Linked DNA regions of Homo sapiens: regions 1, 3, 4 and 5 are each linked to region 2. Evidence: fine-mapped expression QTL. A gene starts in region 2. Each other region holds a variant in brackets. All regions are shown on one strand. Distances are from middle to middle.

Region 1 (5,177 bases), 540 kb before region 2:
TGATCTTTTGATCTTTCTGAGATAATAGCAAAAGGTAGTGATGGAGGATTTTTCTTGGCCCCTTCGCTCCACTCGCAGGAGGGGTGTCCTGTCTACTCGGCCCGCCATGCTGAACCCCTTGTGGGAGGGAGCACATGAGTGAGCGAGTGCGAGATCCGGTCAGCTGCTCCAGGCGCCGGCAGAAGCAAGCTCCATGGAGGGCTCCTGGTGGTACCCAGGTGAGGGTTCCTGTGACCCTGAAGCACCAGGGTGGGTGTTACGGTGCTCTTTTAGTTCCGCTGTCCACAGGCAGCAGTGTGTTAGCAGTTCAGCTGACCCCTTGTAGTGGCACTTGGGTGAGGGTGCCCATGACCCCAAGATCCCAGAGTGTGTTACAGTGTTCTTTTAGTTTTGCTGTCTGCGGACAGTGGTGTGTTAGCAATTCAGTTGGCCCTTTTCCTTGTTGCTTAGGGCAGCTGCCTTCCGCCAGAGAGGGCAAAAGGCCAGTGTAACGCCCTTTCCGGGTACCCACACTCAGTGGGTCCCAAGCTCTTGCCCAGCATCCAGGAATAATGAGGTTGCTCAGACAATTAAAGGGCAGATAATTTTATTATGCATTAAAAACGGCTCTCAGCAGAGAGGGGAGCTGGAGACGGGGCAAGATGGACAGGCTGTCTTACCCCAAAGTCTGGTTGTCTCTTCCATAGTCTGGCCATGTCTTCCCTGAAGTCCAGCCGTCTCCCACACTACTGACAGAGTCTGGGGTCTTTATAGGCACAGGATGGGGGAAGGGCAGGCCTTAGGTAGTTTTGGAAAAGACATTTGACTGGTAAAAAGACATTATTCAGATAGAACCAATCAAGAGAGAGCGGGCAAACAGGAATAGAAGTTCTTACTTTGGGCCATGGGTTTCAGGCTACTTTGGCTTGAAGGTGGGGTTTCACCAGGGACCCACCCGTGTCTGCCTAGAATTTCTCTGCCTCCTACCTGTATCGATCGTACAGCCACACCCTCAGCCTTTTTTTTTTTTTTAAGAGGATGCTTTCCTAACAGGAGATCTTTCCATTTTAGCATATTTTGCAATCTGAATAAGCTAAGCATTTTCCAAAACATGAAGTCTTGGATCTTCTTTTTTTTTTAAGAGTTACCTTGCTCCTCTTGCATTTGACTGTGAGCAGCAAGAAGATCCAGGCCATACCTTTAACACTTTGCCTGGAAACCTCCTCACCTTGATATCCAAGCTCATCATTTACGAATTTTGCTTTCCACATAAGTGCAAGTCATAATTCTACTAAGTGTAAGAGGATCCACTTTCCTCCAGTTTCCAATAACATGTTCCTCATTTCCTTCTGAATTCTCACCAGAATTGTCCTTAAAATTTAGATTTCTATTAATAGTCCCTTCACAACCATTTAGATATTCTCTAAGATGATTCTTCTGAGCCCTCCCCAGCAAAGACTTTTCTAGAGCCCATAGGCACTTTTCTTAGAGCCCATAGGCAATTGTAAGGGTTGCTTCAATAGTGCTGACCCCTCTGAACAATAGCTTTCATTTATATATAGTTTGCAAAGTGCTTTTTAAAATATTATCTTTATGACATCAGGTGAGGAAAACGAGGCAGTCTTCCTAGCCCCATTTATCACATGGTGAAACCAAGGCTCAGAGACCTTTCAAAGGTAAGTGACAAGGAAAGGGCTAAAACCTTAGGTCTTCTGGTTTTTACTTTTAAAACACTGTTCCAAGCTCCCTCCCTTCCCTAAAGATAAAATCTTATTCTGCTGGTAGATTAGCAGAATAGAGGGAACTTAAGCCTTTGAAAATTGAACACATCTTCATTTTAGTTTCTTTTGAGGGAAGGGAGTTTTCCATAAAATTTAGCATCCAGACAAGCACAAAAGTCAAGGGAGAAGATGAATGAGGCGAGGTCTGTCAGCAGTGAGCTCAGTCCAGTTGGCAGAGGATATCTGAGATACTTTGGCGCCTTGTGCCTGGATCTATGAAGTGCCCACTGATAAAACCTAAGCTTAGTTTTAAATAAACAGTAAGTCTTCCTTCCATCTTGAGCAAGAAAAAGCTAGATATGCCAGGGGCTTCCCATCTAACTTTCAACAAATCTGGACTATTTGCCCAGAACAAAGAAGCCCTTAAAATCAACCATCCATGGAAACATTCAAAGAAACCAAGAGATTAATCTATCTACAGAGGCCTCTGGTCCAAGATGGCAGAGTCAACAGGCCTCGACCTCCCCTCCTTCCTAAAATCACATTGACATGCCAGTAAAGAAAAGAATAAATCACATAAAAGAAGCTTTCAGCAAGTCAGAAATTTGGCAGATTTCTGGGAATAGAGAAGATGAGATTGCACTGGCAGATAAAACAGAGAGGAAGCAGCAACAGCTCAGAATGTACACCACAGAAAGCTGTAGCTAAGGCTGGAGCCATTTTGAGGGCTCTGAGTTCCAAGTCAGCAGGAATAGAGTGGGAGTGGGAAGAGGAGCAGAAATCAGGAGGATGAATGGAAGGCCTGCTGCTGGAACAGAGAGGCAAGTCAGGCTGCATCTCCACTTTTATATTTGGAGAACTGTCAGCTGGAGGATGACACCTGGGAAGAAACCAAAACTATGCTTGCTAGAGAGAGTAAAAACTGTCCTTGGGGAGGACCACATCTGCTGGTTCATGTGCTGGCCCTGGCAATGGGCACCCATCGTTTGGCCTGCCTTGCATCTCCCTTTCTTTTAGAACTCCACGTTTGCTTTGGGGAACCACTTATCTTGCACTGCCTACAGTTTGGTCAATCAAGAAACTGTGAGCCAAGTTGCCTTCCTCTCTTGGCTAAGGGGAAGCTCCCTGACCCAAGAGAGGCCAATCGGATCATCTCTCAAAAGAGACTGACACAAACGCTGAAAACAGCTCAAGTTTTTTCACCTGCCAATAGAGATGTTTCACCTTCATGGAGATGTTGCCTAGAGGTAAATCCCCAGAGATGTTCTGATTTCTGTGGACCCTGGCTCCTATTCTGCCCTGAACCTGGTTCTTCTACTTCACCCCGGACTTTGTATACTACCCCATATCTTCCCCGTAAGTTTCCCTTGCATCCAAAAAACCATAACTGATACGTAAACCCAGAGTAGAGCCCTTATTGTATAGCATTTCCTTCCTTGCCATCTACCCTATAGCACAGGCTGCCAGTCCACACCCA[C/G]TAGTTCTGGGCTAACTATGAGAGCTTCCATTCAAAGATGCCACAGACCCATGCAATAGTGGAAACCAATGGCACAAAATAGAGAGGCCTAGATAATCAAACTAAATATCTGTAGTCAAAGGAAACAGCTAATTAAGTGATGAGAAGACAACTTAAAAATAATTCTAATTAGTATACTTAAAGAGATTTGAGACAATTATGCCTAAAAAACCTACAGTAGGTAAAAAAAGGAACAATAAAAAATATGATAACCAAATATTTTTAAATTATTAGAAAGCAACCAAAAAAAGTCAAGGAGATCCCCTAGAATATATAGCAAAAGCCAAAGAAATGAAAAATAAAAGCAAAATGTTAAGAGTCATATAGAGGACTTATCCAGTAGTAACCCCCATATGAATTTCAGAAAGAGAAAATACAAGGGAGAAAAATAGGAAATAAATAACAGAAGAAAATTTCCCAGAGCTAAAGAAAGATATGTGCTTTATAGATTACAAAGGCTTAGCAAGTACAGATCAGAGAAATAAAAAAGACCCATTCAAGGATACATCATTGAAACTTCTGAATACCACAGACAAAGGGAAGATCTATTTGTCCTTAGATTTTAAAAAATGAAGATTAACTATAAAAGAATAAAAATTAGATTGTCTCACATGAATAAGCAACAACGGATGTTGAAAAATACTCTCAAAGTTCTAAGAGAAAATTTATTTTGAACCTAATATTCTGTAAATAGCCAAAATCTCAATGACATATGAGGTGAAAATGATGAAATTGTCTCACAAGAGCTCAAAAAAATGACCTCTCACATAATCTTTTTGGAAAATAAATTCCTTTAAAAGTATCCAGCAAGTCGAAAGAAAACGTGGAATCCAAGAAAAAAGAAAAGCATGGACTCTAATACACAGGGGACCCAATCAAGTAGCTCAATGTAAAAAAAAAGAAAAGAAATTTTTTTTAAAAGCCTGGGATAACAGTTGTACAGCGCTTAGGAAGTAACCAATCTAAATTAAAACAATAAATCAAAGAACTCAGAGAATAAGTCTTCAAGAAGTGAAATCACATTAATAAATTAAGCAGCTGGATGGTCTTGGTGATAATATGAAGTTATGTGCTTCTTTTGTACACAGTAAAAAGAAAAAAAGACAAATAGAAACCCTATTTGGGGAGAAGCATACAAAGATAAGGAAACCACAACCAAATTCAGAATGAAGCCAAAGTGCAGTATGACTTTGAGCCACTGAGAGTGAAAAAAAAAGGTAATTCATTTCTGATGCTTGGAACATTTTACTTTGTGTAGTTCAGTTCTGTGGTATATGACTACATTTCCTTCCAACTGCATGTTCTACACAAAATAATATTTACATGATTCATGTTTTTGTAAACTTTTTATTGCTGTTCCATTTTTATTGTAAAGTAAAATAAAGATACAAGAGAGGCACAAACCAAACATATAATTTAATGAATTACTATTAGGAGAGCATCCATTTAACTACTGCTCAGCTCCTGGAAGAGAACATTGCTACCCACCCAGAATCCCCTCCATTTTCACTATCCCAGTCTCAACCCTCCTGGGTTTTACACTAATCATTTCTTTGGATATTTTATCACCCAAGTATGCATCCTTAGCTGTTAGAGTTTAATCTCAGTCATTTTAAAAATTTGATATCTCTTAAGGCTTTTTTTAATATATAGGTTTCCCCTCTATCCCTCTTTTTTTCTTACATTTTATGTATTGAAAAATACGTAGTCTGGACACTGCTGAGTGCATACTTACAGTACAGTTCAGCATGTTCATCTTCTCTGTATTCCTAAAAATGGGCATCTAGATTCAGAGCTGGGATTGGACTCAGGTTCTGTTCTTCTCACAGGATAATAGGTGGTAATATGTTCCTTTTTTTTTTTCTTTTTGTTGTTAAGTTTTGCTGTTGTTTCAGTTTTATTGACATAAAATTTACATCCTATACAATTCAACCACTTAATGTGTGCAATTCATGGCTTTT
Region 2 (5,177 bases):
CCACCGTGCCTGGCCAATTCAAATCCTTTACTCACTGTGTTGTTGCTGGGTTGTAAGAGTTCTTTACATATTCTAGATGTAAGTCCCTTATCAGACACATGATTTGCAAATATTTTCTTCTAGTCTTTGGGTTGTCATTCCACTTTCCTGATGGTATCTTTCCAAGTGTATTATTTTTTAAATCAAAATTTTAAATATTTCTTTTGCCTCTGTTGTTTCTGAGAGCCGAAGACATAGCAAGTTGAAGAAGCCTTGGCTTTTTGACATTCTGGGACACCTTTCAAGAACACTGAACCCACACCAGGATTGTCACACACTGACAGGGAAAGATGTGTCACTCCAGACCCAGGCAAGCAAACTTGGCCACAGCTGGGATATGTGTCTTGCATCAAAGCAGAAGCAACTGGTAGTTTTGAGGGTCTTCTGACAGACACCCTCCAAACATACTGCTCAGAAGTGAGGTAGGAGGTGAGATGCGACTCTGGAGTCAGGGTTTGGACACCGGACCAAATTCAGGGATGGGGCTGAAGCAGCTTTCCATGAGACATGCTCAACAGTGTGCCATGTCGGTTTACCATTGCCATGGCAACACCTGGGCATTGCCACCCCATTCTATGGTAATGACCCGATGACCCAGAAGTTACTACCTTTTTCCTAGAAATTTCTGCATAAACTTCCCCTTAATCTGCATGCAATTAAAAGTGGGTGTAAATATGCCTGCAGAACCTCCCTGAGCTGGTATTCTCAGCGCACTGCCTGTGGGTTAGCCCTGCTCTGCAGGGGCAGTCACAGAGCTGTAACACTGCCACTTCAGTAAAGCTGTTCTCTTCTACCACTGGTTCACACTTGAATTCTTTCCTGGACAAAGCAAAGAACTCTCTGGGGTGAAGTTCCAATTTGGGGTCACCTGCCCTGCATTAGAGGGACAAGAGTCCCTGGCTGGAAGCTTGAGTTCATTAGACTCCTCCAATGTTGATGAAGTCTTAAGTTATGACTCCCTCTAAGAGATGGTCTCTAAGTTTAATAAACTTCAAGATCTCTGTCAACCTTCAAGTATTCAATTACCCACTCTGAAAAGGGGAGTTCAGTGCTGTAACACTTTTATGGCAAGACATTTTTGAGTCTAAATAAAACACCTTGGGACTTGAAATATATAATGTTGTTATTGTATTAGATGGTAGTGGAATAATGAACTCTTCCTTAATTAAAACTTATTTTTACATATGTAATACAAATGTCAAAATGTCAAGTTAATCTGTACTGATTTCCTTTTTTTTCTTTCTTTTTTTTTTTCTCGTTGTGAGACAGGGTCTCACTCTGTTGCCCAGGCTGGAGTGTAGCGGCACAATCACAGCTCACTGCAACCTCAATCTCTTAGGCTTAGGTGATCCTCCCGCCTCAGCTTCCTGAGTAGCTGGGACCACAGGTGTGTGTCACCATACCCGGCTACTTAAAAAAAATTTTTTTTTGAGACAGAGTTTCGCTCTGTTGCCCAGGCTGGAGTGCAATGGAGCGATCTCGGTTCACTGCAACCTCCGCCTCGCGGGTTCAAGCGATTCTCCTGCCACAGCCTCCTGAGCAGCTGGGATTACAGGCGTCCGCCACCAAGCCCGGCTAATTTTTGTATTTTTAGTAGAGACGGGGTTTCATCATATTGGTCAGGCTGGCCTTGTATTCACGATCTATGAATGCATCTTTTTTCAGTTTTAATCGTTAATGAAAAATACAAGAACATCACAGAACGGAGGTAAATGTATAGGGTTAACAGCGCCTCTAGCGGGGATATCGAAAGGATCAACTAGGCTCTAAGTATCGGGAGCTAGCAGCAAGGGCTGCTCACCGTATGCTGCCATCCGTCCAGGAAGCGAGTGGGAAGCTGGTGTTCTCGGCAGGACGGCGGGAGCATCTGAGGAGAGGACCCAGGTGCGAGGAAATCTCAGAAATGGGAACGGGGAAATTGAAAGCACAGGAGATAAACTTTGCTTGGGTCACAACTAGAACCCTTCGCTTCGCCTTTACGAAAATATTGAGGCCCGTTGCAACCCTAGATGAGGTTGTCTCATTTTCTCGCTGGAGAACTGTCAGGGAACACGGAAAACCCACCCGCGACCCGGCTTCATGCGGCGCCGTCTCCTATGGCAACCGGGAGGAGGCGTGGTTCGAAGGTTAGTCACGCCCCTTTCCTTCCAACCCGAACAACGATTGGTCCGAAGGCGCGGCGGTGGCGCGGGGAGGCGGATCCAGGACCGCAGCTCCGGCTGGCCCGCGCCGCCATTTTGGATTGTGTGAGTTTCCGGGACGTTCGGAGGGTGGCCTCTCTCCCACCGGGTTCCGCATACCCCAGGCACCGGCCCGCATCCAAGTGTCAGGTTGGAGCCGGGAAGCGGCCCTGGTGGTAGCGGCGGCGGGGGCAGGATGAGCGCGGAGGCGGCGGACCGGGAGGCGGCCACCTCCAGCCGGCCCTGCACCCCGCCGCAGACCTGCTGGTTTGAGTTTCTGCTGGAGGAGTCACTGTTGGAGAAACATCTGCGCAAGCCCTGCCCGGGTGAGCGCGGCGCCTGCACCTGGGGAGCGGGACCCGGCCACCGGCGCTGTCCGCCCAGCTTCCCTCCGCTCCCCGCCTTCTCGGTCACCGAAGCTGCGGCCTGGGAGGCGCGCACAGGAGCCCAGCTCCGGCCGGGCTCCTCGCTTCCCTTAAACATGCCCGGGTGGAGGGTCAAAGAAAAGCTCGAAACAAAGGCTCTCCTACCCCCGGAGGGGAGGGCTTGGTGCTGTCATCCTAAACCCTTTGGTCCTTTTTACGATTTACCTTTTTACTGTTGGGGTTTTAGAGGCTGCGAGGCGGGTCTTGTGGTTGCTTGGGTCGGGGAGGCTGACCAGACGCCTCCTTCAACCCCAAGCTGAATAAATTCAGGGAGCTGGGGAGAAACCAGCTGTTGGGTGTTGATCGTGACGCTAGTTATTATCTTAGGTTTTATTTAAACATTTTTTTCTTCAGTGAGGGAATTTTATTGACTCTTATTCCAAAGTTGGGCTGTAAGTTAAAAGAAAATCTTTGAAAGTAGGAACTGCTGCACATTTGCAAGATGGCTTTGTATAGTGATGATAATGATTAATAGCCCAGTTAAATGGGTGTGATTGATGGGGGAGGAGGAAAACTCCAGGCATTCTCAAAAAAGGTATTGGCACAAAAAGGTAAGTTCCTCGGATAGCATTTCTCTAAATTCAAATCTAGATATGGCTTGTTCAGTCTCAGACTGGCCTTCACTGATAGAGACCACTGTGTAAGAAGTTAGTGTACTTAGGCAGTTTTGGCACCTGTATAATGCCCTTAATTCATTCCTTTTGAAAGATAATTTGTTGAGTGCTTTCCGGGTGCCATGCACTGTGCTTAATTGCTCACATCCGTTACCTCCTTTAATTTAATCTTCAAAATGATCCTCTATTTTGCATTGGAAGAAGCAGGTACGGAGAGGTCACTTGATGGAGGTCCCCCTAATTAAGTGTCAAAATAATAGTTCTAATATTTATATCTCATTCTTCTAATTGGCAGTGGTTATTTGCAGAACCAGAAATCTATGACTGTTATGTTCTTCCCCGTAAGGTGCTTTTTTTTGCTTTCTTCCACTCTAATCTGTTACCCTTCCTCCTTACCACTCTTCCGCATCTCCTTTAACCCCCAGGCACACTTCTTACATACGTATTCCTTAGTCATTTTAACAGCGCAGCTGTTTGGATTCCTTTTGTGGCAAAAAAAAAACCCAAACTCCCCCCCCCCCCACCCACCCCCCCAAAAAAACCAAACCAATAGTGAATCCTTTTGTATCTACATAATTAAAACTTAAATTTAAGAATTTATTTTCTTTTAAACCCTAGATCCTGCACCAGTTCAACTTATAGTTCAGTTTTTGGAACAGGCTTCCAAACCTTCAGTTAATGAACAAAACCAAGTTCAACCTCCGCCTGATAACAAGAGAAATCGTATTTTAAAACTACTTGCTCTTAAAGTTGCTGCACATTTGAAGTGGGACTTAGACATATTAGAGAAAAGGTATCCAAGATTTCAGTGAAATTTCATTTGAAGTGCTATTTAGATATCTTGGTTTATTTCTATATATGCTTTTATGATATCGGCTCTTAAAAATTACGTGCTGGGCGCCGTGGCTCACGCCTATAATAATCCCGGCACTTTGGGGGCCAAGGCTGGCAGATTACTTGAGGTCAGGAGTTTGAGACCAGCCTGGCCATCATGGTGAAACCTCGTCTCTAGCCGGGCATGGTGGCGGGCGCCTGTAATTTCAGCTACTTGGGAGGCTGAGGCACGAGAATCGCTTGAACCCGGGAGGCTGAGGTTGCAGTGAGCCGAGATGGCGCTACTGCACTCCAGCCTGGGCGATAGAGTAAGACTCGGAAAAAAAAAAAAAATAATAAAATAAATATTATATATTCTTGATAAAATATGCAAGTATAACATTACTTTTGATGTGGTAACTAGAGAAAATCCACACCTAAACTGTTGTAAATTTCTCAAGTGACTTTTACATATCTGAAGAAAATGAATAAAAATTAATGATAGATGTTGTGTAATATGAATGATTTGCTGTTGAATAATTGAGTTGATTTTACTGGTCATAAATCACTATCTCCTATTAAAACAGCTGATTAGAGTCAGTGCTTATTTGCTTAAATATAAATAATTTCAAGCCTTTTATTAGAAAATGATTTATTATCATCCCCTTCTCATCACAATTTAAAACATCCCTTATAGGAAGTTGGGAAAAATTTAAAAAATAGGAAATAATTGGGGAGGAGAGGGGTTTTTTTTGACATTTTCATGTAATTTTTTTTCTTTGTTCTCCATAGGCTTAAAGTTGTGATCATACCCTATATACTGTTTTTATTCCTGGTTTTTTCACCTAGCTGTATCATGAGCATTTCCCCTTTTTTATTTTTTGGAGAGAATTCCGTTGTATGGGTAATTTATTAACTGTTCCTTAATTGACAGTCATTTAGTTTATTTCTAGTTTTTCACTGATATAAATCACAGGGCCTTAAATATCTTTGCCCATAAAATAAGTTTATCTGTATTTTGAGTTGTATTCTTAGGATAGCTCCTTAAATTGCTGGATCGTGCAGTATAAACATTGTTAAGACACATGAATATTGCTGGATTGCAT
Region 3 (5,153 bases), 110 kb after region 2:
AAAAAATGAAAAGTCACTTGGACTGCAGGGAAGAATACTTACAATACAAGGCAATTAAAAAAAAAAAAAGAAAAAAGTTGAGCCAACCTGTCACTCTTCACTCAGATGCCATGAAAGACATCATCACCAGACAGTCCCCACACTCTTGCCACTTGGCAGGACAGGCTCCATGACAGAGGATTTTTCACTCTGTGGAAATATAAAGCCTATCTCTTTTCCCATGGGCAGAGAGAAATATGAAGTCACTTGAGTGCCTGGACAAGTACTTCCAAATTTATAGCTGATGCGAGGTGAGGAGTGGACAGAATTGGCGGGAAGGAATAGTAACAAATTAAATACTGCACTAATGGGTTAGTTACAGACATGAATTTTTCCAAATATAATCTCACAGGTCTAATTTAATCCCTCTGCACGAGACAAGTGCCTCTGTCTACAACACCTGTAATGTCTGTACCACGTCATGCAGTCACATTGGAATTACTGCATGCACTCTTCACTAAAGCTTAATGTACCTGAATTCCAAATGAACTGTATGACTAATCTGGGGAAAAACCATACACACAGAATACATCAAGTTTTCTTTCAAAAGAAAGTCCAGCCATAATTCCATTATATCCATGGCAACTATCACCTGTTAATGCTAATGTTAGTGTGTAAAAATGTATTCATCATATACAGAGAGATTATCAAGTACTGGTCAATAAAGTGTACAGCTGACCCTGAGAATAAATTTTTGCTTGCTTAAAAGATTAAGTAATACAAAATAAAATGAAAATGAAAGATGCCTATTCTCGTACTTGGGAAGAAATGTCTTTAAAATGCTGACTAATGTATAACCTAATATATTTAAAGACACCCCCAAACACTGTAATTATATTGATATGTTTCCAGAAATAATCTGAAAAAGTGTACAAAAAAAGTAAATGTTAAAGGCAAGGCATTATGTGATACACAGCATATAAATCTGATTTTCAAGATAGTGTCTAAATACACTGATAAAACTATGTGATTGGTTATCAATTGGTTGTAAAGAGACAACATTTTCACTGTACATATACACACATCCATACATGTAAGCACAAACCAAGAGAAACCAACCAACAAAACTTGAAACTATTAGTAATTGTACTGACGCGGGCAGGGCTGATGAACAACCCAGCCATTGTGCTTGACTTGCCGAGGGTGGCAATCCCTGGTAAGATTTTGGCGACGAAGGCTATTTCTGTTAAGAGGCTGTCTTTCACTGTGTTCTTTTATCCACTGGGAAGGGCGAAAGCTCTTGGGTTGTTCCAGAAAAGTTGTATGAGCAGCAAGAGCTGCAACATAACAATGAATATGCTGCCCCATTTCATTTTGAGCTTCCACTCTGAAACAGAAAAAAGTGGGGATGTATTAAATAACAGAGTATGTTATTAACAAAACTGGAAAAGTTACTTAGCAATTCAATTTGCCACGCTAATTTGTTTATGGCTGAATGAGAGCTTGTGTTTCATGGCTGACAGACAAGTTTATTATTCTGTGACCCCACTGACTGATAGTGGTGGAAAGGAGAGCCAACTGTTACTAGAAAGATGCCATATAAGCCCCAGATGGCTCACTAAGTAGACTGTTTTCTAAAAATACACTTTAAACTTTGAATTTCATTTACGGAGCACACACATTTATATAAGCTTGTCTGGGAGGGGAGCTAACATTTATTGAATATCTGCATTTGCCAATTCTTTTGCAAATATATATTTTAATTCTCACCATAATCTTAAAAGGAAAATATTTTAATTCCCAAATTTTACTGATCAGAAAGCAGTGTGCTCACAATACCTTCACAAGACATTTCCTGTCTATAAGTAAAATGTTCCAGGAAACATGCTTTAAATCTTTATTTAATAGAAATTTGCATATGGAAATTCTACTCATTTGCCATTTTTCTAGATAAAAAGCTATAGCTTAATAGAATAAATCTCTTAAGTTTTTCTTTATCTCACAACAGGGCACATTTTGAGATGGTATTTACATGGCAATATAAGACTCTTGA[A/AT]TAACACAATCTTAAAATTGGCTACACACAGTATGATTATGTTTTCCATATAAAAAAGCTAATCAAGTAGGATTGCTGTAAACTATGTCAACACGTAACATGAAGAGCTGTATGATTTTTAAGAGTTATTTTACACAGGAAGGGCAGTGACACATTCTGCCTAAAATCACTTGAGGAAACACACATATTTATTACACACACACACACACACACACATAAAATTTTTTTAAAGTAGAATTTTAAGAGGCCACAATAAGAAACTAATAGAAAAAAGTTAATATAAAGAAAATTATTTTTAGGCCAGGCGCTGTGGCTCGCTCTTGTAATCCCAACACTTTGGGAGGCTGAGGCAGGTGGATCACCTTAATAGAGTTCAAGACCAGCCTGGCCAACATGGTGAAACCCCATCTCTACTAAAAATACAAAAATTAGCCAGGTGTGGTGATGCAAGCCTGTAATCCCAGCTACTTGGGAGGCTGAAACAAGAGAATCACTTGAATCTGGGGGGTGGAGGCTGCTGTGAGCCAATATCACACCATTGCACTCCAGCCTGAGTGACAGAGTGAGACTCCATCTCAAAAAAAGAAAGAAAGTCATTTTTAAAAGGTCAGCATTTGGGTCCTTTGCCTCCCTATGCATACATATATCACACAGTCTCAAAGTGAATATACTTACTCTGTGCCCGTGAGTCTTATAAGCAGCTTTTCCTGGCCCTACAAATGTTAAATGGTGAACTATTAAATCACTAGTAAGATTTAAAATGCTATTGTAACTTTACTATTAGGACGTGGTCAACTTTTATTAAAACTGGTTTACTATGTGCCATTAAAGGCACGTACATGTGCTTAAGATAACATGTAAAACCTTCAAAAACAATACTTATAAAGGCTAAAATGCAATGAAATGTATACCCTGAAGCCCACTGTAATTACAAAGCACCTCAATTTTCTGTGCTTTATGGTAATATCCCCAATGATAGACACAATGGAAGCAATCTGACTTCTGAAAGACATATGATTCATTTCCTGCTAAGAAAACAGATATTTACTACAAAGCTAGCCTAATTTTGGTAACACCTGATTTCCACCTTGATTTAGCAAGACTTCCTTATAAGAATTTCAAATCCCTGCCGGGCACGGTGGCTCACGCCTGTAATCCCAGCACTTTGGGAGGCTGAGGCGGGCGGATCGTGAGGTCAGGAGATCAAGACCATCCTGGCTAAAACAGTGAAACCCCGTCTCTACTAAAAATACAAAAAATTAGCTGGGTGCGGTGGCGGGCGCCTGTAGTCCCAGCTACTCGGGAGGCTGAGGCAGGAGAACGGCATGAACCCAGGAGGCGGAGCTTGCAGTGAGCCGAGATAGCGCCACTGCACTCCAGCCTGGGCGAAGGAGCGAGACTCCGTCTCAAAAATAAAAAAAAAAGAATTTCAAATCCCAAAATAAGGATGTTAAAAAAATTATAGTTACTATTTTAAAACTAATAATTTACAGGAGTTTCCTGTGTACAAAAAGGATTCACATAAAATTCAGTGCATTCTGGCCGAGCACAATGGCTCATGACTGTAATCCCAGAACTTTGGGAGGTCAAGGTGGGCGGATCACTTGAGGTCAGGAGTTTGAGACCAGCCTGGCCAATATGGTGAAACCCCATCTTTACTTAAAATACAAAAAATTAGCTGGAGATGGTGGCATGTGCCAGTAATCCCAGTTAATCGGCAGGATAAGGCAGGAGAATCACTTGAACCCAGTGCGGAGGTTGCAGTGAGCCGAGATTGCGCCGCTGCAATCCAGCCTGGGCAACAGTGAGACTCCGTGTTAAAATACATAAATAAAATTCAGTGCCTTCCTTTGACCCTTTATATATGGAAAAGTATGTATTTGTTTTACTATCCCTATATAACTATCATATATGAATGCAAAAACAAACAAGATATAAAAACAACATTCTCACTGTACCAAAACTAGAAAACCATAACAACCTTGAAAAAGAAGGAAGGAAGAAGAAGGAAGAAAGAAGAAGAAATCTACTGAAACAAAATGGTGGAGATCATTGCCTAAATAAGTAGTTTATAAAATAGTATATCTGGGCCGGGCACAGTGGCTCATACCTGTAATCCCAGCACTTTGGAAGGCCAAGGCAGGTGGCTCACCTGAAGTCAGGAGTTTGAGACCAGCTTAATCAACATGGTGAAACCCTGTCTCTACTAAAAACACAACAATTAGCCAGGTGTGGTAGTGCACGCCTGTAGTCCCAGCTAATCGGGAGGCTGAGGCATGAGAATTGCTTGAATCTGGGAGGCAGAGGTTGCAGTGAGCTGAGATCGCGCCACTGCACTCCAGCCTGGGTGACAGAGCAAGACTCTCTCAAAAAAAACCCCCAAAAAAACCAACTATACATCTGGGCATGGTGGCTCATGCCTGTAATCCCAGCACTTTGTGGGGGGGGGGGGAGGATCACGAGGTCAGGAGTTCAAGACCAGCCTGGCCAACATGGTGAAGCCCCGTCTCTACTAAAAATGCAAAAATTAGCTGGGCGTAGTGGCGGTGGCACATGCCTGTAATCCCAGCTACTTGGGAGGCTGAGGCAGGAGAATTGCTTGAACCCGGGAGGCAGAGGTTGCAGTGAGCCAAGATTGCAACATTGTACTCCAGCCTGGGCAACAAGAGTGAAACTCTGTCTCAAAAAAAAAAAAAGAAGTATATATGGCATGTTGCCATTTAGGTTAAAAGTTTATGTGTACGTACAGGCACAGAAAAAAAAAAACACAATCTGGAAGGATATACTCTAGGATGTTAAAAGTATTCATCTCTGGGTCATGAAAATGTCATTTCCAATTTTTGCATATTTGTATTTTCTAATTTTTTTACATTGCATTTGTACTGTTTCTGTAGTAAATTCTTTTGCAAAGCTGCTGACTACACACACACACAACACTGCAAAGTAAACATATAAATGCCAGTAAGTTTAAAGTGACTATTAATTATAAATTCTATTTTTTTTTTTTTTGAGACAGAGCCTTGCTTTGTCACCCAGGCTGGAGTGCAATGGCGTGATCTCAGCTCACTGCAACCTCTGCCTCCCGGGTTCAAGCAATTCTCCTGCCTCAGCCTCCCTAGTA
Region 4 (5,000 bases), 40 kb after region 2:
TTAAAAACTGAGCTCATTTCATTTTAACCCTTTCAGGATTTATTGAGTTTATTGATTTCTTCAGTTTTTCCCCCCTTTTTGTAATTTTTTTTTTTTTTTTTTTTTTTGAGACGGAGTCTCGCTCTGTCGCCCAGGCTGGAGTGCAGTGGCGCGATCTCGGCTCACTGCCAGCTCCGCCTCCCGGGTTCACGCCATTCTCCTGCCTCAGCCTCCCGAGTAGCTGGGACTACAGGCGCCCACTGCCATGCCCGGCTAATTTTTTGTATTTTTAGTGGTGACGGGGTTTCACCGTGTTAGCCAGGATGGTCTCAATCTCCTGACCTCGTGATCTGCCCGCCTTGGCCTCCCAAAGTGCTGGGATTACAGGCGTGAGCCATCGAGCCCGGCCCTTTTTTTTGAGACGGAGTTTTGCTCTTGTTGCCCAGGCTGGCGTGCAATGGCACGATCTCGGCTCACCGCAACCTCTGCCTCCCAGATTCAAGCAATTCTCCTGCCTCAGCCCCCCGAGTAGCTGGGATTACAGGCACGCACCACCACGCCTGGCTAATTTTGTATTTTTAGTAGAGATGGGGTTTCTCCATGTTAGTCAGGCGGGTCTGAACTCCCGACCTCAGGTGATCCGCCCACCTCGGCCTCCCAAAGTGCTGGGATTACAGGCGTGAGCCACCGCGCCCGGCCCGGCCCTTTTTGTTATCTTTACACTTGCTCGTGAAAACTGCCATACTTGAATTACCCTTTTCTTTGAAATTTCAGACATTGAATCATATCTATCTCTTCTTTTTTTTGGAGACTGAGTCCCCCTCTGTCGCCCAGGCTGGAGTGCACTGGCACAATCTCGGCTCATTGCAACCTCTACCTCCCAGTTTCAACCCATTCTTGTGCCTCAGCCTCCCAAGTAGCTGGCATTACAGGCATGCACCACCACACCCGGGTAGTTTTTTTTTGTTTTGTATTTTTAATAGAGACGGGGTTTTGCCATGGCAGGTCTAGAACTCCTGACCTCAGGTGATCCCCCCGCCTGGGCCTCCCAAAGTGCTGGGATTACAGGCATAAGCCACCGTGCCCGACCTGAATCATTTCTATCTCTTTAGTGAACTTTCTGGCATGTGAGTTCTTAATATATTGGGCACTTGTCTCATTATGGACACCAGTAATTTCTTAGCCTTTAAGAAAATCAGATGAGGGAACCGTTGTGTTCCAAGGTTACTGTCATTTACACTTACAATCATAGCTTGTCACTGAGTGCAAAGACAGCATAGTAACTCTTCTCTTTACCTCTGGCAGTGAATTCTGTGGAGCTGTGCACCAGGAGAGATAGGCATGTGTTTGTGTAATGAATGCTTGAGGGTCTGCAATGTGTAAGGACACAGGAAATTGTTTTGTTGGTTGCCTAACTCTGGGAGAGGCTGTCTCACTGCTTCCTGCAGTTCCCCTGATCTGGTCCAAAAGGAGGAAGGATGTGTGGTGACTTTGCGAAAGAATTGTCACTTAGATGTCTCTTCATATGTCATCTGGTGGTTAGGGTTTTGTGTGCCACCTTCCATACATAATTGGCCTCTCACTGCCTTGTTAATGTCAAGGAAAAAGGAATTAGAGAAAGAAGTTTAGAATGAGGGATTGTGTTTTGAAAAAAATACAATCTGAATCAGTTTCCACACTTCCAAGCTGGTGTGGAATGCACCACACACACACACGCACACACGTGTAGGAAAAAGTCTGAAAGGATATTAACAGCCATTATCTCTAGATAATGGGAAATTTGGTGATTTTAATGTTTTCTATTCTGTTACATAGGAACATATTTTCCTACTCATATATTACGTAATCACAAATAGGAACAGAAAATTCTTAAGCATGTCACTAAAATATACCCTTTTGAAATAATATAAAACTGTCTAGTCTGCCCCTTGGATCAGAGTGGGTGGCAGTGTCACATAATGGAAAGGGCACAGGTTATAGGCACTTGGATGATAAGAACCTAGGTAGTAGTGGGGGGTTGGCAGCCACAGTGGTGCTAGTATAGGCTAAAACCTTAGGTTGTTCATGTGGCCTACCAGGCTTCTTAAGGTGTGCATGCTTCTCCTCCTCCAGGTGCAGTTCCCCTGCCCCTTGGCGTTCCAGCCCTGTGCTGGCAGCACCAGCATGCCCACGCCATGTTTCCATTCTGCACCTGTGCACACGCTGTTTGTCACATTAGCCAGGATGTCCTTTCCAGCTTTGCGTGTTTGTGTGATTTCTCTGATGCTTTCCCATATTCTTTTCTCTGTAAATGAGT[A/G]AATCACTTCCTCTTCCTGCTTCCTTTGTACTGTTGTACTGATCCTGCTACTGTTGTACTGTTGACTTATTTCTTTTGTTGTGTTTATGCTGAATAGTAAGTTATATATCCACTTGTCTTCTCTATAAGACAATGAACTGCTTCAGGGCAGTTAATTTTTATGTTGTGCTTTCCATGATGCCCACCACACATAGTAGGTGCTCAAGAATGTTTGTGGAATTCAATTGATTTGAGGCCTTAGACTTTGAAAATTTTTTAAATTAAATTTATGTAATAAATTCAGTGACCTTAAAGCATATGATCCCTGACAACAGAAGATGAATTTGAGCTAAGAGCTACAGTAGCCCTGGCATTACACTGCAGTGAATAGCTGCATGTATTGTGATTCCATTTGTCAGAGAAGAGTATTTTAGGTAAGCTTGCAGGATGAAATATCCTGCTAGGCCATTGGTCCATGTCTATTCACCTAGTATAGGCAGGGTTTTTATGTTATTCTCACGAGCTTCGGAAAGCCACAGTACTCTTGTTAATTTTCTTAGGCATGATCACAGAGTTGTGGTTATGGAGAAGAATGTCCTCGTCCTTAGAAGATGTATGTGGAAGTATTTAGGGATGAAATATTGTGTCTAACTTAGTTTAATATGGTTTAACAAAAAAATTTATGTAGATATATAAAGCAAACATGGCAGAATAGTCACAATGTGTCAGGTATTTATTGAACTTTTTTTTTTATTTTTCTGTTTGAAATTTTTCATAACAAAAAAATGTAGAGAAAAACCACCAATTTTTGTCCTTGTCACAATCTTGCCACCTCCTTAAAAAAGCCGCCTTAAGCAGTAGGGACCCCTAGGTCCATTTTAAGTAGAAACCAGGGGTTCCTGATGGATTTGAAATTATCCTTGCTACTGCACCCTCTACAAGAGCGATGGAGTATAAAAGTTAATATGAACAAGGGTAAAGGGGCCCAGTTCTGAATTTGGCCAGATGCTGTGGCTCAAGCCTGTAATCTCAGCACTTTGGGAGGCCGAGGCGGATAGATCACTTGAGGCCAGGAGTTCGAGACCAGCCTGGCCAACATGGTGAAACCCCGTCTCTACTAAAAATACAGAAATTAGCCGGGCATGGTGACACATGCCTGTAATTCCAGCTACTCAGGAGGCTGAGGCACAAAAATCGTTTGAGCCTGGGAGGCGGAGGTTGCAGTGAGCCAAGATTATACCACTGCATTCCAGCCTGGGTGCAGAGCAAGACCCTGCCTCCAAAAAGAAAAGAAAATAAAAGAAATTCTGAATTTATTGTAAGTCAATCTTTCCCTGTCTTTTGCTTTTAGCTTTCCCACTCTTTATTTCTGGGTCCTCCCTACATCCTAGGTCATTGAGGCTGCCTTTATTCATACCAGTCACTTTGTGTAACCTGTCCTGCCTTAATTCTACCTCCTCAGAAGAGCAGTAGCTCCATTCCCAGTTGCTACCAATTTTCTTAGAGAAAAATTGCTTTAAATCTATATCCCTTAATTCTGCCAACTTCAGTTTCCTTATTCCTTTCCTTATTTTTTTCGTTGAAACAATTTTTTTTTTTAGTGATTAAAAGTTGTATGTGTGTGTATTTGCACGTGGGAGAGAGAGAGATCTGAGCACTATTTTAACCTCACCCCCTGGGCTTTTACCACAGTTAACATCTTGGTGTATGCCTTCCATTACACTTTTTTTTCCCTATGTAACGTGGGATCATACTATGTGTATTTAGCAACTCGTTTTTTTTTCCACTTAATAAATCACCTATCTCTTTGCGTTGTCTCATTTTCGTTTTCATTAGACTATAACTGTTCAGAAACAAAGTTCGTATGCTCGAACCAGAGGATCTTTCTCAGATTCAGATCTGTCAGTACGCAATGAGCCCTAAATTCCTCAAAGGTTGTACAGAATGCACAGCATAAAATAACTGTGCTTAGTATGTTTGGGCAGTCATTCCATCTTTCCTCCAGTGTGCCTTGATAATAGAACTAATGTGCACGACATTACAGATTATCTTTTGTGTATTTTGTTTTTCATGTTATAGCTTGGACAGCTTTTAGCAGCTACATGCAAAGAACTTCCAGGCCCTAAAGAAAGTAGACGGACTGCCAAAGACCTTTGGGAAGTTGTTGTTCAAATCTGTAGTGTGTCCAGTCAGCACAAACGAGGAAATGATGGCAGAGTTAGTTTAATAAAACAGAGGGAATCTACGTTAGGTATCATGTATCGGTATGTATTGGTACGTTTCTATTAGTTGTGTTTGAGTTCTTAATATTTATCCTATTTATACTATTAACCTATTAAAGGTTGATTTCAAGAACATCAGCTTTTATTCTGTATATCATAAAGTTGGACAATCTTACGAGTTCTGTAGTACTCACCTGTGATGAACCTGTCTGCCTTGGCCACCTTTGGAAAGATCTTTTGTTTATATGTCATTTTAAGAAACTATTAATCATTTAATCAACTGGAATTCAAAATCAGTAGTATTTAAGGTTGGATAGTATTGAAGACTTCACATGTGATTAAAACAGGGAAGAAATGTTATTAGGTTAGTATAACAGTAGAATATTACATTCCTTTTCACACTTGCAGAATTGGAGCATTAAGAATAAACCTTCACCTATAATTTACTTTCTTGATTTTATTTTTTATTTCTAATATTAAATGTGTATTCAAAAATTTTTGTTTTGTAGGAGTGAACTGCTTTC
Region 5 (5,000 bases), 27 kb after region 2:
CTAGAGTTGTGCAGCTATCACTTCACTTCCTTTTTTCACTCCAAAAAGATAATCTCTTATTCATTACCTGTCACTCTTCATTTTCCCTCAATCTCGCACCACCTGAGGCAACTACTAATCTAATTTCTCTATAGATTTATCTGTTCTGGATATTTTATGTAAATGGAACTATGAAATAGATGATCTTTTGTAACTGGCTTCTTAGCACGTTTTCAATATTGTAGCATGTATCAGTACTTCACTTTTTATGGCTGAATAATACTTAATTGAATGGATATATACTGTATTTTGTGTGTTTATTCATCAGTTGGTAGACTGCAGGTTACTTATACTTTTTGGCTACTATGATTAATACTACTATGAACATTCTATTTTGTGTGTGTGTCAACGTAAAAAATATTTAGCAATTTCTTGAGATTATGGACTTTTACACTAGTTATATTTTATTTTGGCTTCTTATAAATAATATATTAGGAGGAATCCTAATCTAATGAATAAATTCAACATAATATGAAAATATTATTTGTAGATAACTAATATGACCATAACTAGTTTCTATTCTTTGTTTGCATTGTTTACTTTTTAAACCTTGGTTACCTTTTTAACTATTCATGAATAGCTCATGAATATAGAACCATTAGTTCTATATTCATGATAAATCACTTACTCTTTTCAATTATTTTCTTTTTGGTTTTAAAAATTTTTTATTTTTTTAACTCTTTTCTGACAGGAGCTACTGATTTCTATGGTTTATCACTTAATATAATTTGGCAACATAGTTGATAAATTCTGTGAGAACTGTATAGCATGGTAACTAGGTTATTCTTTGCTACATGTATACACCTGCACTTATTAAAATGGTCACATTCCATTCCCTCTTTGTGATGGATTGTTATTCCTTGGTCTGGTCTCTTCTGTTAAGTTACTTAACTAAATCTGTGATTGGTACATTGTTGAAAAAGGAAAATTCAGTTGTTTTTAAATCCAGCCTTTTCAAATTATAATTTACATTTTTATAAGTACCCATATTCAAATGAAAATTACTCAAATTCCTAGGTATGTTCAAGATCAGTAAATTTAGAAAAAGCTTCAGAGTCTTTGAAAGGAAACATGGCTGCTTTTCTAAAGTAAGTACCTTTCTTTTCTTTTTTCTTTTTTTTTTTAACTTTGAACTTAGTCCTGTGAACAAAATATCTGTATTATCTTTTGTTTTTGTCTTGGGTATCTTTTAACCAGGCAGTAACTGGTGTTTGAGAACCCATTAAGTTCAAATTTGTATAGCCACGTGAGACATTAGGATTATATAGTTACCTTTTTTTAATATTGTGGCATTGACATCACAATTTTAAATAAGGACCAAAGGGAAATTTTAAAATCTATTTTAAAATATCATTATACAGTTTATGTAATGGTGGCTTTTTAAATGGCTTATTAAAATTGGTTGATATGATTGTTTTTCTCAAACTAAATTATACACTTTTTTGTTTTACAATATTTCTTACTGATCTAGGAATGTGTGTCTGGGGTTGGAAGATCTGCAGTATGTTTTCATGATTTCTTCACATGAGCTTTTCATTACATTGTTGAAAGATGAAGAACGAAAGCTACTTGTTGATCAGATGAGGAAGAGATCCCCTAGAGTAAATCTGTGCATTAAACCTGTAACTTCATTTTATGATATCCCAGGTTAGCTCTCTAGTCGGCCAGCCAAAATGTTGGCATGTTTTGCCCCTCTATTCAAATTAACCTTGAAATATATTTGAGGATTCTCTCTTGTTTTAATTAACACTTGTGTTGGTAATTAATAGAAATTCACCTGTCTTCCGTATCAGATTTCTGTATAAGCAGTTATGCTCTGGAGCTCTGCCAAGCCAATGATTAGTACAGATTCAGTCCTAGATACATAAAAGATTTTAGCTGGGGAAGGCTGGGCGTGGTGGCTCACGCCTGTAATCCCAGCACTTTGGGAGGCCAAGACGGGCGGATCACGAGGTCAGCAGATAGAGACCATCCTGGCTAACACGGTGAAACCCCGCCTCTACTAAAAATACAAAAAATTAGCCAGGCATGGTGGTGGGCGCCTGTAGTCCCAGCTACTCTGGAGGCTGAGGTAGGAGAATGGCGTGAACCCAGGAGGCGGAGCTTGCAGTGAGCCAAGATTGCGCCACTGCACTCCAGCCTGGGTGACAGAGCGAGACTCCGACTCAAAAAAAAAAAAAAAAAAAAGATTTTCACCGGAGAAATAGACCAAGGTAACACTGCTGCCAGTATGTTCATGGAGGTAAAAACAGAAAGCAGGAGAGGAGTGGTGAGAAATGCTGGGACCAAAAAGAGGACAGATTTTCGTGCATGTCAGTCTATATCACTGTGCTAGTATCTGCTGACTGAACAGCTTGGCAG[T/G]ATTGCTGTTTTTGCCTTGTTTGATTTTTTTTTCCATTTTTGCCCTTACAAATATAAGTAGAAAATACAATGCTGTTTTTAAATAAGAAACATAAACTTCAACATTTAATATAGATGAGAGAGAATTCGATTGGTTTAACAAAAGCAAACTTTTAGCTTCTTTGACCTTCACTAGATTTAAACTGGTTGAATGTCCAGTTGTAAAGGAAAAGGGTAAGGTTAACACAGAAATGCTGGAAATGCATTATTGAAGACCGTATCTGATATCTGAGCTGTAATTAGGGATTTTGGTAATCATTTTTGGTTCTCTGGGAAGAGCATGCCCCTTTCTCTCATAAAACACATGCTTAATGTTTATTACTCAAAATTAACATTTTATATATGCTTCTGTTAACACATTATATTCAAAAGTAGTGTATAAGTTGTGTATAAGTCTGTAAGTTAATTATTTTCATATATTCCACATAGTTCTTTGCATGAAATATTGATTTTTATCTTGTTTATATTTTCATTATCTTTATTTTTAAAATGCATTCATTTATTAAATGTAGATATAGTAAAATTTTGTTAGGTTTTCTGTGTGAGGATAAAGTTAATGTGTAATTTATACAATGTTGAATGCATCAGTTCTCAAGATGATAGCAGCTTTTAATTTATAGATATAATACAAAATACATAATTTTAAGTAAATTGTTATTCTCGTGTATATCTTTGAATTAAATCATTGAAATATAAATCTTTTTTTAGCTTCAGCAAGTGTCAACATTGGTCAGTTAGAGCATCAACTTATATTGTCAGTGGATCCTTGGAGGATTAGACAAATTTTAATTGAATTACATGGTATGACTTCAGAGCGCCAGTTCTGGACAGTGTCTAATAAGGTAAACCCTATGTCAAGAACAGATAAGAAAATTGCCCTTGTTTTCTGAGGTAATTTAATAGAAAAGCTGTTCCCTGACCTTTTTGATAATAAGGACCTCTTACTTAACAGTTTTAAGACCTTCATATGAACATAATTGCATTTTTAACATCCATTGACAGAGAAAATAGGAAATGTCAGAAACAAAAAGATACCATTAAATGAGTAACATCTAAAAATGAGTTTTTCCATTTGTTGACAAAATATACGCATTTTATTTCATTCATTTGTTTTTTGAGACAGAATCTCACTCTGTCGCTCAGGCTGGAGTGCAGTGGTGCAATCTTGGTTCACTGCAACCTCTGTCTCCCAGATTCAAGTGATTCTCCTGCCTCAGCCTCCCTGGTAGCTGGGATTACAGGTACCTGTCACCATGCCCGGCTAATTTATGTATTTTTAGTAGAGATGGGGTTTCACCATGTTGGCCAGGATGATCTCGAACTCCTGACCACCAGTGATCTACCCGCCTCTGCCTCCCCAAGTGTTGGGATTACAGGTGTGAGCCACCACGTCTGGCTGCATTTTAAATATAGTTGTAAATATATGTAAATGGTATATTATTTATGCATTCTGTAGCATAATGCTTCATTATGGAACATTTTTGGCTTTAAATGTTCCTTTAAAAACTCCCAGCTAATACATTTACCTGTTTCTGAGTTTATCTATTAGAAAGTTTTCCAGCATAGAAAGTGCAAATAAAAATAGCTTTTAAAACACCATTTCAGTGGAATGTAGCTTAGAGATACAAGGGAAGTAATCGACAGATACAGGAGAAATTAAAGCAATATGGTAATGCTCGTAACTAACTACATACTTACTCCTCCCCTGCTGAAGATGTAGTAAAAAGGCAGCCAGAAATGTATGGTTTGTTTTTTTTTTTTGAGACTGAGTTTCACTATTGTTGCCCAGGCTGGAGTGCAATGGTGCGATCTTGGCTCACTGCAACCTCCGCCTCCCGGGTTCAAGCAATTCTCCTTCCTCAGCCTCCCGAGTAGCTGGGATTACAGGCATGCCCCCACCATGCCTGATGAATTTTGTATTTTTAGTAGATACGGGTTTCTCCATGTTGTTCTCCATGTTGGTCAGGCTGGTCTCGAACTCCTGACCTCCTGACCTCAGGTGATCTGCCTGCCTCAGCCTCCCAAAGTGCTGGGATTATAGGCATGAGCCACTGTGCCCGACCTGTATTTTTAAAAATTGGGTTTAAACATACTAGTAGAGAGAAAATAAAAAATTGCTCTAAAAATTAGTTGGGCTTTTTTTTAGCATTGATGCTATTTATTAGTGTGAATTTTTAAGATGAAGGCCAGGTGCAGTGGCTCATTGCCTGTAATCCCAGCACTTTGGGGAGCTGAGATGGGTGGATCACTTGAGGCCAGGAGTTCAAGACCAACCTAGGCAACATAGCGAAACCCCGTCTCTACTAAAAATATAAAAATTAGCTGGGCATGGTGGCGCGCACCTGTATTTCCAGCTACTTGAGAGGCCGAGGCAGGAGAATCACTTGAACCTGGGAGGCAGAGATTGCAGTGAGCAGAGATCACGCCACTGCACTCCAGCCTGGGTGACGGAGCGAGACTCTATCTCAAAAATCAAGAACAAACCAAAAATTTTTAAGATGAACAAGTATAGCATGATAGTTATGATAGGGGATTCTGGGACTAACCGCGTGCTTAAGCTT

Evidence for each region.
Region 1: its variant is fine-mapped to the expression of INTS8 in monocytes after Pam3CSK4 (Quach 2016, PIP 0.95).
Region 3: its variant is fine-mapped to the expression of INTS8 in whole blood (INTERVAL, PIP above 0.99).
Region 4: its variant is fine-mapped to the expression of INTS8 in whole blood (INTERVAL, PIP above 0.99).
Region 5: its variant is fine-mapped to the expression of INTS8 in whole blood (TOPMed, PIP above 0.99).

Annotation. Positions count from the first base shown.
Region 1 is chr8:94,278,091-94,283,267 of GRCh38, forward strand. No RefSeq gene overlaps it. Among named protein-coding and RNA genes, the nearest start is that of GEM, 18 kb to the left of the region's middle. The variant C/G (reference allele first, on the strand shown) is at 3,178.
Region 2 is chr8:94,821,017-94,826,193 of GRCh38, forward strand. INTS8 (integrator complex subunit 8) reads left to right here and starts at 2,271. Exons shown (of 27, transcript NM_017864.4): 1 at 2,271-2,545; 2 at 3,877-4,051. The coding sequence starts at 2,416. RefSeq lists a silencer at 2,308-2,697 and an enhancer at 2,858-2,917.
Region 3 is chr8:94,929,363-94,934,515 of GRCh38, forward strand. TP53INP1 (tumor protein p53 inducible nuclear protein 1) reads right to left here. Exons shown (of 4, transcript NM_033285.4): 4 at 1-1,366. The coding sequence ends at 1,117. It also overlaps a transcript of NDUFAF6 not described here. Among named protein-coding and RNA genes, the nearest start is that of TP53INP1, 17 kb to the right of the region's middle. The variant A/AT (reference allele first, on the strand shown) is at 2,033.
Region 4 is chr8:94,861,173-94,866,172 of GRCh38, forward strand. It overlaps INTS8 (integrator complex subunit 8), which reads left to right. Exons shown (of 27, transcript NM_017864.4): 17 at 4,334-4,518; 18 at 4,986-5,000. Among named protein-coding and RNA genes, the nearest start is that of CCNE2, 32 kb to the right of the region's middle. The variant A/G (reference allele first, on the strand shown) is at 2,276.
Region 5 is chr8:94,848,406-94,853,405 of GRCh38, forward strand. INTS8 (integrator complex subunit 8) reads left to right here. Exons shown (of 27, transcript NM_017864.4): 11 at 1,057-1,127; 12 at 1,511-1,686; 13 at 3,148-3,281. Among named protein-coding and RNA genes, the nearest start is that of INTS8, 28 kb to the left of the region's middle. The variant T/G (reference allele first, on the strand shown) is at 2,401.